Homo sapiens: one gene and its partner. The protein of the gene in region 2 interacts with the protein of the main gene of each other region in a pairwise test. Each region holds a gene or a part of one and is shown on either strand. Other genes may lie near its edges.

Evidence for each region. Proteins that work in one complex are often made in the same cells at the same time.
Region 1: the proteins of LDLRAD4 (region 2) and ZDHHC22 interact in binary tests that used the Homo sapiens proteins (3 or more experiments, as listed by UniProt).

Annotation. Positions count from the first base shown.
Region 1 is NC_000014.9:77,131,485-77,139,425, forward strand, and holds part of ZDHHC22 (palmitoyltransferase ZDHHC22), read right to left. Parts: coding exon 7,729-7,941; intron 2,465-7,728; coding exon 2,199-2,464; 3' UTR 1-2,198. UniProt on the Homo sapiens protein: Palmitoyltransferase that could catalyze the addition of palmitate onto various protein substrates and be involved in a variety of cellular processes. Catalyzes the palmitoylation of KCNMA1, regulating localization of KCNMA1 to the plasma membrane.
Region 2 is NC_000018.10:13,214,163-13,222,402, reverse strand, and holds the start of LDLRAD4 (low-density lipoprotein receptor class A domain-containing protein 4 isoform alpha 1), read right to left. Parts: upstream 3,644-8,240; 5' UTR 3,415-3,643; intron 1-3,414. UniProt on the Homo sapiens protein: Functions as a negative regulator of TGF-beta signaling and thereby probably plays a role in cell proliferation, differentiation, apoptosis, motility, extracellular matrix production and immunosuppression.

The DNA.
Region 1 (7,941 bases), on a different chromosome or scaffold from region 2:
GGCTGGCTTCTAAGCTTGAGCTCTGGAGCCAGGAAAGAGTCAAGGCCAAAATTGCCCAGATCTTCCCCTCCTCCCTCTCCCTCCCATTGCTTAAGTATGGCCAGAATTGTGGGTGAAAATGCCCCCAGCGACTCCTCCATTGAGGCAGCCTAGGCTTCCCCTCTTCAGCCATCTCTATCACATTCTTTATTTCCAAATGACCTGCCCCACCAACCACCAAGATGGCAGAGTGACCATTTTGCAGGGAGTGTGAATCAGTGCACAGACGGCAGTGACAAGGTGCCCCTGATGGCATGAATCTTGTCATCCTGTTCATCACTGCATTGCCAGTGCCTGGAAGAGGCTGGGAACGTAGTTGGCACTCAATAAATATACGTAGGATGGATGAGTGAAGGAATGAGTATGGGAGGGAGAAATGTGAGCAGGTGGAGCCAATACTACATTAGCTCTCTAGGGGGTGTGAAGGCAGAACCACAGTAAAGTCCTCCCAATCTCTGCTCAAGAACCCAGGCTGTTGCGCAGCTATCAGCGGGTCACTGCAGTTGGCGGTTGGACATTGCAGGGCATGGATTCAGCACTGCTGCCTGCATGGATGTCATATTGGCTTTGGGACCCAGTCAGGAGGGGGCACTTGTGTTGTCCCTACTCCCTTATATGCCCCAGAGGTCTGGTCCTCTAGGTTTCAGAAAACACACAGCAGTGCCTCCACCGGAGTCAGTCAGATGCGCAGGGATGGTCTGGGAATTGCACCCTTATATTCTGGTCATCTCCACTCCTCAGCCTTAGCTCACCACTGCCCCCCATGCCCTGCCACTGACAATGACACTGCTCCATCTCCCTGTCCTCAAATGTCAGTCCCCTCAACCACCCAGGTAGCCCTGTCTCTGCAGAGACTCTCTCTTCAGTGGCTGGGTTGGGTCCTGATTTTCAGACCCCTCCCATGCCCACACTCCCCTCTAGGAAAGCAAATATCTCACAGGCATCTCTGCAGATCTTGCCTCTGGGTCCAGCAATCACAACCAGGACATCAGAACCTTGGGGTTGGAAGGAATGTGTAAGCTCACCTAGAATGACCCTGTACAGAAATCCCTTCCACAGCATGCCTGGCAGACGACTGCCTAGACTCTGCTGGAATACCTCCAGTGATGGGGCACTCACTACCTTCACAGGCAGCCATTCAAACATTGAAGAGTTTCAGCTGCTGGAATGCCCTTTGTATAGGGCATAAATGAACCCAATTGTCCCTCTCACTTCTCCCTTTCCCCTAGGCATTATTCCTATATGTTTCTAACAACACTTCTCACCACCACCCATCTCTCTCTCTCTCTCTCTCACACACACACACACACACACACACACACTTCCATATGGTTATACAGTCGAATATCCCCTTCATTTATCAGTAATTATCTTTCCCTGTCCCTTCTTCCTTGCCTTCCCATCATCTGGCAAAGACCTGGGGGCTGGAGATCAAGTAGAAAGGCTGGAAGAGTTCCAGGGACAGGAAGCATCCAGCCAGGTCCTGGACTGGGCTGGGCCGGCCAGATGGGGCAGGGTGGACAGGGAATAACATTTGGAAAAAGCAGGCCATTGATTGCTGTCTCCCAGAAAAAGGGTCTTGAACCTGGTGGGGGGTGGTGAGGGAGCAGCAAGCTACTAAGTTCTTTTTCCTACAGAGGGGATGCGGACACACACCCACTCTTTCCCAACTCCCCTAGCAGTTGGCAGAGCTGACTTGGCTGCCTCTTACACGTGGTGATTTTAAACATTTGCCAGCCTCTAGGTCCCAGGGAGTCTCATACCAGCAGCAAGAATCCACTCCCCTCTCCCAACATGGGGGCTGAGAGGAAGGGCTCTAGCAGACAGCAGTGATGAATGAGACACGGTGGAGAATGGATGAGCCAGGAAGAGGGGGAAAGCAGGGATCCCAAGGGGACGGAAAGAAAGCAGAGGCAGCCTAACAGCTAGCAGCCACCTGGCTGGCTCGTGAGGAGCCTAGAAATGCCTGGGGGGACATTTTTCCTCCTTGTCATGATCCACCAGCTCACGCTGTTCTCATGGGTGGAAGGTGAGGGGAAGATGCTAGGACCTTACCAGCACAAGGTTGTAGTGAGTCATGGGTGGAGACAAGGCTGCCATGGTTTTATGCTCAGGAGGAGTCAAGACAGAGACAGAGAGATAAATGACGGGAGTGTCTACTACTTATCCTGCTGCTTGGAGCTCTCACTTCCGACATTGAACATGGGGACCAGCAGGCCCAGCAGCCACCTCTTTCCGAAGACCTCTTGTAAGTTCTTGCGCCAGGGCCGGGCCCTCACTGCCACCCCCTTCCGCACCTGGTGGCGGGTCTGCCCGCGGAGGATCAACAGCAGCTGGTGGCAGCAGAAGCCGGCGCAGGCCAGGCCGATGGCGAACCAGAGGTAGAGCATGAGGATGACGAACATTTCAGAACCCAGGACAGCTCCTGCAGGGCACGGGGAGGGGAAACACCAGAGCCGCTTTACACCCAGGCCACCGGCATAACTGCGATCTAGGCAGGCTTTCCACCGGGAGGGAGGGAGATTAATGAGATTGACGCTACATTTTGTAGCAACCTCAGCGCTGCAGCTGCAGTGAGGGAGAGGAAGGAAGAACCAGCTGCCCTAACTTTTTCTTGGCGCGGATGGCACCTGAGGCAAGAGGGGAAGACTGGAGACATGGCAGAGAAGAGAGCTAAGTTTGATGAGCTTAGCAAGGACAGCCCTCAGCTCCTGGGGCAGCACCTGGCCGCTGATAACATTTCTGTAGAGTAGGAGATGCCTGTCTCTCTCTGCTTTCTCCTTTTGGGCTAGAAGCAGGGTGAAGGGGTTTTGCTCAGGAGGAGAGAGGGGTGAGCTGGGGACCCTAAAGAGGGAGCAGGTGCCTGGGCAGCTGTCTAGTCCACAGCACCTTCTCCCTACTGTTCTGGGAACGCTGGTTGAGAGGACTCAGGAAAATGACAGCATGATGGAGATCTGGGAAGAATAAGTCACGAGCTTAGTCTGAAGAGCAGCCCAGAACACCAACGTAGAGAATAATTCAGTCATTAATGTTAACAAGAGGACAGTGTGGCCACCACCGCATTCCACCAGAGCTGGTTCTGTCAATCAAAGCTTGCTAGAAGAGGCCCCCAAGGTCATCAGCCCTGTGTCGTGGGGCAGGATCTCCCCAGAATCCCTCTAAACCAAGCACTTCCTATTACTGGTTTGAAATAACCACTGAGTAAGAGCTCCCACACTCTTCCTCAGAGTTTGGGTGGCTGGTCCATGCTAGGTTTGAATCTCCCAGCTGTGTGGACTGGCACAAGTGTCCCAACCTCTCAGTTGCAGCTCGTTCATCTGTACAATGGGTATAATAACACTAACGATTTCATACAGCTGCATGTTTCAAGAAAATGATGTACAGAGTGGTCAGCATTCCGGTTCACACTCAGAGCGGTGCTCCCAGCAGAGGGTCATTTTACAGAGCAGGAGACTACATCCAAAATGAGTTCAACTCCTGAAACTATCAAGCTTTTTCCTTCTCCTTTTCAGGGCTTAGAGTCCTGGCTGGGCTGCAACTTTGGCAGCTGTGGCAAAGACACTTACCTTGACCTACCCAGCAGCCAGGGCACTGGACCCTGGAGTTAATTCGAAAGTATTCCTTAGCCTTTGGTTCCCTGTAGGGCAACCCTATCACCTCCTCTGGTGGGGGGGGGGCACCTCCTCTAAGGACTCCACCTTACAACCTATTCTGCCCTTGAAAATCTCAACCATATTTTGCCCTTTCCCTAGCCTTCTCTTGCCCCAGCCCACCTCTTCCCAAGTCTCTCCAACCTCCAATTTCCAAAGCCCTGTCAACTGGGCTTTCAACACTTGTCCAGTATGAGCAGTGGTGGACTCAGCAGCCATGGAGGATGTGGATCTGATTTAGATTCTCTCATTAGCAGCCTCCTCTTGTCCTCATCCCTAGGAGCTTGGATAGCTGTATTATTTTTTTTTTTTTTTACAAAGCTGGGGACAGATAGGCCCAGCTGCCATTTACAGCAGCCCCTCCACTGGCACAGGGGCAGCAGTGGGACAGGGCTCACATTGGGCTGTGCCATCCCCTGACCCACTTCTTCCATGTCGGCACAGATTAGCTTGGGCAGCCATGTGGGGGATGGAGGATCCCAGGTCCATGGTGCTCTTTGGCGTGAGGAATGCTGACAGGCAAAGGTGGCCCTCAAGCTGGGATGTGAGAACATCAGAGCTGTCAAGCTTGGGCCTGCCTTGCAACACTGCCCCAGGAACAAGCCTGGGTGGATGGAAGCCATTTCCCACAGGGTTTTTTCCTGGCACTAAATCAAGGCATGAGAAAAAGAACTTGCGGCCTTTTCTTGGCCCCATGCAGCAGCTACAAAAGGCTATTCTGGGGACCTGCTTTCTCTAAAAGTGTTTGAAGTTACCTAGCCTGGCTGCTTCAGCTCCTCTTAACTATTTAATAATAGTTCTGCCTCTTTTTAAAAATCACAGAATTTTCCTAATGAGCCTAAAAGGACACATCAGTCAATCTCCCCTGCCCCTTCCTCCCAACAGGCATCTATAACACCTTTGACAAATAATCACCCAGCATACTTTTTAATACATCCAAGGACAAGTAGCTGCCTCCCTTCCAAAGTGGCTCATTCGAGAAGCAGCTTCAGAGAGGCAGCCCCCAAGAGGCAGTATGGTGGGTGGAAAGAGTATGAGCTTTGGAGGCTAGAAGCCCCAACTCCAAATCTTGGTTTGGAATCGTACCAGCTGTGTGGTGTTGGTGCAACTTAACCTTGCTGAGTCTTTGGTTTCTGAGCCTTAAAAATGGACATGATAATATGGACTTGTCAAGAGGAATGGGTGAAATGTGACATGCATAGTGGGTGGTACATAATAGGTGCTCAATGAACATTAGTCCCCTTTCCCTCTTACTGGACTTTCTGGTAGCACCCATCATGCTGGTGTACTTACCCAAATGCCAAGATACAGGTCAGATGGTGGCATCTCCATTTCCCAGATAAGAATAAGGTTCAGAGAGGTGACACAGCAACCTGTACTGGTCCCACAAAGCCAAAAGAAAGGGTAACTTCTGAAACCTAACTAGCTAGCCGCCTCCCTCTCTGGATCAGCTGAGGGCCTGTGGTTGGCCGCCACCTTCACACTAGAAGACCCCTCCCACTTTTAGCTCTCAAGGCCCAAACTCACAGCCATCCATGCTCTGGTGACAGATCTGACTCAGATCTGTACCACAGTTGGGGACAGCTCAATTTCTTTCTTTCTTTTTTTCTTGAGACAGGGTCTTGCTCTGTAGCCCAGGCTGGATAGAGTGCAGTGGCATGATCATAGCTCACTGCAGCCTCAAACTCTTGGGCTCAAGCAATTCTCTCACCTCAGCCTCCTGAGTAGCTGGGAAAACAGGCACATGCCACTATGCCTGGCTAGTGTATTTATTTATTTTTTATTTTTGTAGCAACGGAGTCTCACCATCTTGCCCAGGCTGATCTTGAACTCAATTTCTATTAAACAACCCATGCTTCTTACTCTTTTCTGTCCACCTGTCCTCCTGTGCAGATGAGAGAGGGTGCTACCAACTGTTCGGATTGAGGGTTGGGGAACAAGAGGAATGGGAAAGGGAAAGCCAAACAGGTGGGGTGTATGTCATGGGAGGGAAAGAAAGGAAGGTCCTCAAGAGGAAAGATGAAAGGTCACAAAAGATGAGATAGGAGAGTTGGAGGTAAGAAGTCTTGCTCGCCTGTTTCCAGTGGATATGGTGAGGAAGTGAAAGACACTGGAACTCATGCTGGCACAGGAGTCTGGGCCCCAAGGTGGGCACTCACTGGCTCTGTTCTCCCATCAGATCAAACCTAGCACATATGGACAGGCCTCAAGCCCAGATTTATCTCAAATCAAACCATTTCAAGGTCTTCCTTCTGGAACCATCCATTTTTACGGTTGGCGAAACTACTTGGAAAAGAAAGTATAAGCAGGCTTGTTGGCTCTCTTCATCCCTCCACCTGCCTGTGCTCACACTCCACCCACTAGCCCACCCACCCACCCTCCCCCGTCCTGGTTATTTTGGTCCCGGCAGCCTCCTGTGCCAGTGCTGGGATCCAGAAGGCCTGAAAGCTGTGAGTTCTGGACCCAGCTCAGCCACCAGCCCTGAAGGCAGCCCCCGTAGCTGGGTCCCCCCTGTATCTCTGTGTTCCCACTGCCAAATGGCATGATAGTTCTATGCCTGGGAAGAACTGGGCTGTAGCCACCACAAAGACTGAAATGATGGCTTCCCCCAGAGTAGAGCAGAATTTTTATGAATGTTCAGCCCAGGCACCTCAAAACAATCTTGGGCTTTCAGAGGAAGTAGCTGCCCTCTGCCTTTCTTTGCTCCTAGAAGGCCAACAGGTGAGGAAGCATGTTCTATTCCCTGAGCCACTGCAGAAGAGCTGTGGATTAAGGACCTGAGAGGCAGACCAGAGACTGCCACTCAGTAGCAGGAAGACACTGGGCAAGCCACTTAGTCCCGTCTGAGTCTCGGTTTCATCATCTGAGAAATGGAGATAGCAATGCTATACATGCACACTCAAGCACGTAGACACTACTGATTGTGGAAGCTAAGCCATTCAGAGTCAAAGGCCAGGGTAGGGAGGAAGTGGAAGGAAACGCAGTAGGAGCCAGTCTCAAGGCCAAATAAAGTGGTAAGAACTGCCACCAGGAGCTGAGTCCTTCTAGGGCCAGGTATCAGGTAGTGGTCCTTGGTGCATACTAGTTAAAGTGCAGTCCTCAGCCAGGCGCAGTGGCTCACATCTGTAAATCCCAGCACTTTGGGAGGCCAAGGTGGGCGGATCACTTTAGGTCAAGAGTTCAAGGCCCGCCTGGCCAACACAGTAAAACACCATCTCTACTAAAAATACAAAAATTAGTGTGGCGTGGTGGCACGCACCTGTAATCCCAGCTACTCGGGAGGTTGAGGCAAGAGAATCACTTGAACCTGGGAGGTAGAGGTTACAGTAAGCAGAGATTGCTTTCACCACTGCGCTTCAGCCTGTGTGATGGAGTGAGACTCTGTCTTAAAAAAAAAAAACAAAAAACCTGCCTCTCCCACCCACGTTCCCTCTGCTCTGAGCCATCAGCAGGCTGGAGAACAGGCTGGTGAGGTCAAACATAATAGGCAGGAGGACAGAGCTTAGCCTCCTGCTGGGCTGGGCTGGCAACAAGTTCAATATTACTGCAATTGGTTGGTGAGACCTCTGGAGAGCAGAGTCCTTGGGTGACATGTAAGCAGAACTGGGGACCAGGCAGAGGAATGTCATAGCATGGTTGTACCTCATGGGGCTACATGGAGGAATGGCCAGCACCTAGTCCTGCCTGGCACAGAGCAGGTGTATTACCTGGATGCCACAACTCTGTGAGCATATGGACAGCATGATGGATGAGAATGATGGGGGCAAGGGGGGATGTTACCAATAAAATACAGCATGTCCGCTTAATTTGCATTTCAGATAGCCAATAGCAAATTTTCTCAGTGTATCTCATACAATATCTGGGACATAATTATACTAAAAAATTATGAGTTGTTTATCTGAAATTTTAATTTAGCGGGACGGTCTGTATTTTTATTTGCTAAATCTGGCAACTTTTGGGGTTGGGGTTTGGGGCCCGGCAACCTTTGGGGTGGGAGGTCTTTGTGTAGAGCCCAACCTGCCCGCCAAGGCCCACTCACCGGAGAAGAACTGGCTGATGGAGGTGGGCAGGAGCGTGAGGAAGGCCAAGGGGTGGGCGAAGGAGATGGAAAGGACAGCGGAGATGTAGGCCACGCCGGCCACCATGGAGTAGAGGCAGGCCAGGGAGGTGTAGAGGCAGAACAGGACGAAGTTGCGCATGTTCCTGCTGCCGATGCAGTTGCCGGTGAAGAAACAGTGATGGTCGTGCCTCA
Region 2 (8,240 bases):
AGCAGACAATAAAGCATCCTTAAAAAAAAATAGTTGTCATCTTTTCTGTTCCTTTTCTCTCTTCCTCTTCCAAAAAAAAAAGGAAGAAAAAGAAAAAAAAACCAACAACAAAAGAACCCATGCAAACAGAAATGATCCCTCAGCAGGATCCTTAACCCTGAACAGCTCGACATTTTTCCGATGCCAAGTAAATGAGTAAATAAATGGATGGGGGGAGTGACGTTGTAGGAGACGGTTGAGAAGGGGGTACAGAGGAAAATCTGCAAAACAAAAGTACAGTCATTAAAAATTAATAAAGGGTGTGGACATCCAGACCCCACCCCCGTCTGCTCATGGGGATTGAGCCAGACATTCTGTGTCCTCGTTAAGTGGAGTCTGGCAGGCTGCCGGAGTGTTAGTGGGTTCTGGGAATGCCAATATATTAACCAGAGGACTTTTTGCATACCCTTTAGAGTTTTTATTCTAGAAAAGTCAACCATTTGGCACAGTGCAGCATTATTTTTGTCCGGGAAAGCTCGCAGCTGCCAATCAAGGGAGAAATTATATCTATGTTCTTTGTAATCTCCAAGACCTATCTGGAAAACAAGCTTGGTGGAAAGAAAAGTCTTCACAAAAACAGCTTAAAAGGCCAAAGTACCATTTTTAGTGAGAACTCAAAAGAAAAGCAATCCATTCTTAAATCACATGGATATGTGACAATACAGACATCATTTTCAATTCCTCCTGTGATGGAAAAAAATGACATTAACTGAAAATTCAAACCCAATATTTTCAGCATAATTAATAGTACAGGTACTAGCTTCAGTCCTTTCTCTGCCTAACAATGAAGCAAACAATGCCCCCCAAAAAATGTCCCTAAAAAGTGGCAGGTCTTGTGGCCTAAATTTTCAAATAGTAGACAGAACCTTTGCATTCCTATTTTGAAACTTAAGACTCATCTTCCATGTACACCCGTAATATAGGTCAAGATGTAATTCTAAACTAACACAGTTCATATAGGCAGAAAGTCTCTTTGACATCAGAAAATAATGGCTTCCAGGAGATTTTTTTCTGAGACCTAAAAAAAGGAAGGAACAGAGGGAGAGAGGGAAGGAGACAGAGAGGAAGGAAGAAAGAAAAGAATAATTTTGGACTACATAGCAATTTTGCCGCTATTCATATTTAATATCCATGTGCCGCTATACATTCTGTTAACTATTTCCAAAAATTTTTCCAGGTTAATATGGTGCGCTCTTCTTTTACAATGTTTTATCACTTCTTGAGGGATAACATTTTTCCTTCTCTACTAACTCTTACACAGGAAGAAGGACACATCATAGAGACTGGATAAGCCCAGATTCCAAAGAAAGATGAGAAGAAACATGGCAAGGACTACCAGAAAGATCAGAGCAGTCTACAATTTCAAGAATTCCTGCCCAGGGCCCTGAGGTGGCTTTGGTTTTACGTGATGACGTAGAGCAGTCACCTCCCACCCACCACAAGGAGACTTTATGCTGGCTACATGCAGAGACGTCAGGAGCTCAGGGATCTCTGCTGGACTGCCTGCCAGAAACCATGCACAAGGAGCAAAAGTCACTCTCCTCTGACTGTGCTTCCCTATCAGTCAGGGAGGTTACCCCTGCAGCAGCCCAGAGCAAAAACAGAGAGCGTCCCAGGAGCTATGAGGCTGGTCTGCCAGGCTGCTAAGTCAACCAAGACTACAGCACAGTCCCAAACTGTAAACACCTCTGCAGACGGGCCCTTGCTCTCCGCGTGCCAGGCAAGAAAACTATTCTTAGAACACTGTCAGCAGTTGGGGGAAAATAAATATTTGTCTATGTATGTATATACTCCAGTGGGAGTAGGGTGGGGTGCAGGAGTCTCAAATAATGTGCCAACAAATTGGCACAAAATCCCTTAATAAGCAGCTGGCACTGGCTGCGTTCCACTGCAGGATTGTGGTCTTGCAAACCAAGCCCATGAGAGGATTCAAGAGACAGCCCTAAAAACCTGCCGGGAAGAGTCTTCTCCAATGTAAATACAAACCTACACGAACCAGGACCATGGCCAACAATGGCAAGCCCTTCCAAGGGTAACAGCAGAATGTTAAGAAATTAGAGAGGTCATTTAAAACAAGGGAGGAAGGTAGCTACAATTCCATTACAGCAAATCCCTTACTGGCATTTACATTCCCAGCCCTAATTCCTAACACTGTGTTCAATGTCAATAGCAAAATGAAGCTCTTAAAAAGAATTAAGCTTTCAAAGATCATAAGGAAGTTAGCCCCCTGTTTTAAAAAGCACTGCTTAGAAAGGTCCATCAAATAACATTTCAAGGGTTGATGGGAAACCAAATATAATTCAATAAATATACATGGGTAATACTCAGACATCCTCATTTGTCTATGTAATGACTCAGATTTGACACTCTGATCCTTGACTGAACACAAAGACTATATTCCAGAAGAATTGTGCAGAGTACAAAGGGAGAGTTACAGATGACAACACACTCGAGTTAAAGACTAGAAAAGACAATACCATATACAGAATGCAGACATGACTTGATGCAATGGCAGTCTCCCTGTGCAGACTTTGCAGAACCTTCTCTGTCATTCAATACTCAGTCCTGAAGCTCCAGGGAAGATACAGAGAGGAGGATGCCATTCTTGGCTAGCCAAACCGGCAGAAAGGGCCGTTTTTAAAAGGAAGCTTCCCAGCACTAGCCCTTCGAGAAGGCACCAACCTCCTTACCAGCCATAGGACCCTATTTTTGAGAGTCAATGCTGCTCACCATCTCTATCCACCTCTACTGCAAATAACTTACTAATACTAGCGCTCAGAACCCACATTCTGTGCAGCTACTCTTACCTCACATCCTACAATGCCTAACACATAGTAGGCCCTCAATAAATATGTATTGCAATGGTAATTAACATTTAGAAAGCAGCGCTGGTCCGGGGATGAGAAGATGCCAAAATAATTAGAAAAGAGAAAAAGAGAAGGGAATAGACCAAGACACAGAGGAAAAGAAAAGAAGCAAATCAAAATTATCTAATTCTAGCTAATTAAAAAATTTTGGGGGAAAAACAAAAATCATGCTAGTTCATGCGGCTATGGGCACACAGCAACCATTCCTGTGCCTGGGCAGAGCTAAGGAGTCCTGCTTGCTTTAAAGAGCTTCTAGCTGCCCTGACTGGCGACGAGGTGTCCCTCCAGGTAGGTGACCCAAGAACGCTGTACTCTCGGATGCGCCTTCCCCCAGTGCCGCCCACCCACCATGCGTCCCTGTCGTCCTGAAAACCTCTGCCTCATCGGGAAACCTTCTCCTTTTCCAATTAAAAAAAAAAAAAAAAAAGTTTAAACAAGCAAATGCCCTCTCCGCCACGATAGCGATTTAACCTAAACCGAACCCACTGTCTTCCACCGGTGTACTCACAGGGCGCGCCCCCAGGCCCACCCGGGGCGGCGCACCGGGAAGGGGTCCCGAGGAAGCTTCCTAAAGGCTGTGCAGGGCAGACCCCTTCACAAAGGCAAGTGCCGGGCCGGGCTGGGTGCTTGTCGCTTCCTGTTTATTCCAAGGTGAGGGGCAGAGAGAAATTCAACACACGCCTGCTTCCTCCGGGGCTCGGAGACCCAGCCTAAGTGCAACAGCAGCAGCCCCAGACAATCGACTTCCCAGCCAATGCCGGGAGCTCCGGGCGGTCCCGCGACCGACGTCAACGCGCGCGGGGGGACCCGGGGGGACGCCGGGTGAAGCGGGCCCGAGGGGCCGGGGCCGGGGAGCGCGCGGTGCAGGATGCGGGACTGAGGGGCTGCGGGGCTTGGCCCGCCCCCTCCTTCCCGCAAACTCCCCGGTCAGGTCCTGCAGGATCTTCCCGCTTCCCGCTGACCTCCAGTCCCTGCCCGCCACGGCTCGCCGAGGCCTAGGGGCGCGGAGACAGTTGGGGCTGCCATCCGCGCGCCCATCCTGGCCTCCGGGCGGTGCAGAATTCAGTCTTGCAACCGCGGGACACCCTGCGCCCCAGGGCACCAGGAAACAGAAAACGGGGTGGGGGTCGGCGAAGTCCCTCCACCGGCGTAACCCCGCCCGCGGGCCAGCCCCGGATCCCCGCCGTGCCCACCGGCAAGCCCACCCGGACCAAGCCTCACAGACCTCGCGCGCTCGGCGCCCAGCTTCTCCCTCCGGCCCCAGCCGACGGCGCAGGCTCGCGGACGTCCAGTTCCCAAAGCGTCCGGTTCCCGAGTCCCCCGCCACCCCTCCCTCCGGAGCGCAGCGGTGAACTTGGGCCAGAAGCCCCGACCACTGCGGCCACCTCGGGTCCGCACTCACCTGGGCCGCCCCCCCGGAGCGGAGGCGGGGACTGCCCGCAGTGCGGCTCCGCGGCCACCGGCCCTGCTGGCCAGGGGGAGGGGCGCTGTGCGGGGCGCGGCAGGGGGCGCGCGGCGGGCCGGCGGGGAGCGCGGCGCGCCGGGGTTCTTTAAGAGCTGAGGACCTCACCCCCGGGCCTCCCCCGCGCTCCCCGCCCTGCTTCCACTTTCCCAGGCACCCGCAGCCTGTCTGGCTGCAGCGGCGGCAGCGGCTCAGTGGCTTGCAGGGGATCCCCGGCCGGCCGCGGCGGCGCGCGGAGCGGGCAGGGCCAACGCACTCGCCTGCTAATCCCGCCGGGCCCGGTCCGCAGCCTCAGCGCGGGGAGAGAGGGGACGCGGCGCTGCGGCCGCCGGGGAGGTGTCCCGCCTCCAGTCGCCGGAGGGGGGAGTGTCCCGCCTCCCGCCGCCGTCGCCGCCGTCTGTCTCCAGCCGTGACTGCGCGCCGCGGCTGTGTCTGTCTCCAACTCCTCCAGTCTCTCCTCCTCCTTCCCACTCCGCGGTGGGGACCCGGCGCGCGGCCAGGCCGCGGGTACCGGGGCCGCCGTGGCGGGGGCTCAGGGGTCCCCGGCTCACAGGCTGCGCCGACCCCTGCGGGGGGCGGGCCCGGAGGCCGGGGGTGGGCAGTGGGGGAGGCGCGCGGGCGCCGAGGCCGCGGGACCCGGGGCCGCACTCCCGCCCAGGGCTCGGGCCCGCGTGGCGCGCGCCCACCGCCGGCCGCACGGGGAACTCCAAGCCGAGCGCAGAGTACGCTGCAGGGGCGCCCGGAGGAGCCGGCTCGCTGCCCGCAGGCCGGGGGCGGTTTCGGGAGGCTGGGGGCGCGTTCCAGCACAGAGTACCTCGCGGGCTGCGTGTGCACCACGGGCCGCGGGACCTCGGGCAGCCGCCTAGAGACGTGCAGTCGGGCGGCAGGACACTTAGTAGGACGGAGCAGTGCTCGGCGAGCCTTGAGGAGCTTGAGGCGCCCCCGGACCCCACCTGGTCGCCCCCTTAGTATCCTGCCCTCTTTAAAGGAAATGGCTCCTGCCTAGAAGGTCAGATGGATTCTTCGCGCTGTGACCCTTTCTCCTTGAAGGACCTACACCTCCTGTGAAGACCATTTCGGACTTGACCTCCACCTGAGTGCAGACTTTGTTCAGAAGTACACGCATTGCCTCCAGCCACCCCTACCATGTTTGATGGGGGATTGGTTACTGCCAGAGCATATGAGCATTTTAACCCAATTTTATTGCAGTCACCAAAATTAGTTCGCCTCTGCCAAAATTAACCCCCCTGCAGACATATCAAAATACTACACTAAGCAGGGGTTTCAGGCTGGGTTTAAGATAGATGCAGCTGATTAAAGGAGTGAACATTTTCAACTGTCCCCACACACCCCCCAAAAAGTTGTCCAGTTCATATTTCCGTAATGTCAGAGAAATGAATCTTTTGAAACCTACGTTTTGTCTAATTTGTCAGTGACTTTTTAGTTAGTGAAATGTTGGCTGAATTCAGTTTCCCTTAAGCCCTCAGCTCTCAGCTATGGTGGTAATTGCCGCTAGCCTTTGATCAGTGCTCATATGTGATGTAATAATAACTACCATTCATGGAGCGCTTCTGTGCTAAGCGCTTTACATGGATTGTCTGATTGAGTCCTCACAATAACTGGGAGCTATTACTTCTCCATTTTACACATGACGAAGTTGAGGCTAGAAGGATTTAGTAATTTGTCCTCAGACCACAAAGAGATGGTTTTACATCCCTAACTAGCTGCATAGAAAGCTGGGAGCTGAACCAGCATGCCATACTGCCACCTACCTACAGCAGCGCTGACAGTTCTTCAGCTCAGCCCGCAAACCAGCCAGCATCTGCCCTGTGCCCGGCAATGAGCCCGCTCCAGCTGGGAATGCCCAGGTCCTGGTCTAACTGAGAAGCTTGTAGCAGGGGAACTTTGAACCTGGCTGCCTGGGTAAACTTTTTTAAATGAGCAATAAGCTGATAAGTGCTTCACACAGGTTATCCTAATCTGACAAGCATATACTTAGTTTATATTTAATGTCCACAAATGCAAAACTCACATGCTTTGGGGTTGGAGAAACTGTGCTCTTGCCCTCTTTAGGTAGAAAAAGAAATGACTTTTTCCATCTAAACGCCCCATGGACAATGAAGAAGAAAAGTTTTTCCAAAACCACAAAGCAATGCCTTCTATTTCACTTGCACATAATTTCTCTGTGTCTAACTTAACCGCCTTAAATTGAGGGCTGAATTTTAAAATCATAATCTCAATTTCTACCATTTGTGATGAATCTCAATCTCGTGTTGCCCTTTCTTATCTTATTTATAACTAGAAACTGCTGCGGCTCTGTATTTCTATCTCTAGAAAATATGGGAGGAACCTGTCCCTGTGTTTTCTTTTTTTTGTTTTGTTTTGTTTTGTTTTTTGAGGCGGAGTCTCGCTCTGTCGCCCAAGCTGGAGTGCAATGGCGTGATCTCGGCTCACTGCAAACCCCGCCTCCCAGGTTCATGCCATTCTCCTGCCTCAGCCTCCCGAGTAGCTGGGACTACAGGTGCCCGCCACCACGCCCAACTAATTTTTTGTATTTTTAATAGAGACGGGGTTTCACCGTGTCAGCCAGGATGGTCTCGATCTCCTGACCTCGTGATCCGCCCGCCTTGGCCTCCCAAAGTGCTGGGATTACAGGCGTGAGCCACCGTGCCCGGCCTGTCCCTGTGTTTCCTACTCAGTCCTCCCTGTATTTGTTTTCCACTTCAGCTATTCCCTCCCACACCCTTCCAGACACACACACTCTCCCTATAGCAATGCTAAGAGTTCGAGGTACTTAGATGTAAGTTTGCTCTCTGTAAAATGCAACATGATTCTACATCGGCTTCATCCTGACCATTCGCTCATTCCAAGGGCCCAGACTGAAGCGCAGCAGAGCGGAGACTTTGTTTTGCTCCGTTGGTGGAGAACTTGGACCCCAGTACACAGAATAGTGCCTGACACAAGGGGCTCAAAGGGTTTTTTGGAATGAATGGTACCTTAGTATTGGGATAGATGAGTAAACAATATTGAGATAAATATTACTAAAATTGGGTGGAAATCAACTGAAATTGGTTTCAAAGAGTGAGAGGTGAAAAAGATTATTTTTCACTGTCAATCCTTGCAGCCTGTCTCATGTCAATTATACCCTGGCCATACTTAGTCCATAGAAGTTTGCTAGTCAGTCATCTAAGGAGACATAAATAGAAAAGGGAAACATGAACGAATGTTGAGAAAAAGGGAATTTGAGGGCCAAGTGACCTCAAGTTGAATGTGAATTTGAGAACACAATTTTGTTTCTTGGATCTCATGCATAACATTTAAATGAAATTTATCCAATATGATTCATCCTATGCCTTGTACTCTTTAATTTAAATGAGAAATAGAAGGAAATGAGAAAGAGAAGCTTCATGTGGGTAATTCTGGTCCTGGAGAAGTGGGAGCCCCGCTCTAGATTCTCAGGACCAGAATCTACGATGAGCAGCCCCGGAGCAAGGGCTCTGTCCCTGAGCCTGGACGACTTCTCCTGCGCGTTTCGCCCCAACACGCAGCATCGCCACACCTCAGCGTCTATCTGTACACTGGAAGTAATAGTTACTACTTCATGGGGTCTTCTGTGACACTGGCCAAGTCCCCATCTGCATACCCATCCCCTCCCTGGGATCCTGTGGACCCCGCTGCTCCAGGACCCACCAACCTCATTCACTTCCTTTGGGATCAGGTTGAAAATCACACAGGATGGAAAGAGAAGTGTTCTGCAGGCAACTTCTGCTCTCAGCCTGGCTGCAGAGCTCTCTCCTTGGGCAAAAGCCACAGCACCTGCTCTCTCCTTAGGGGCCAGGGAGTGAAGACAAAGGGAAAACACAGCAAGAAAG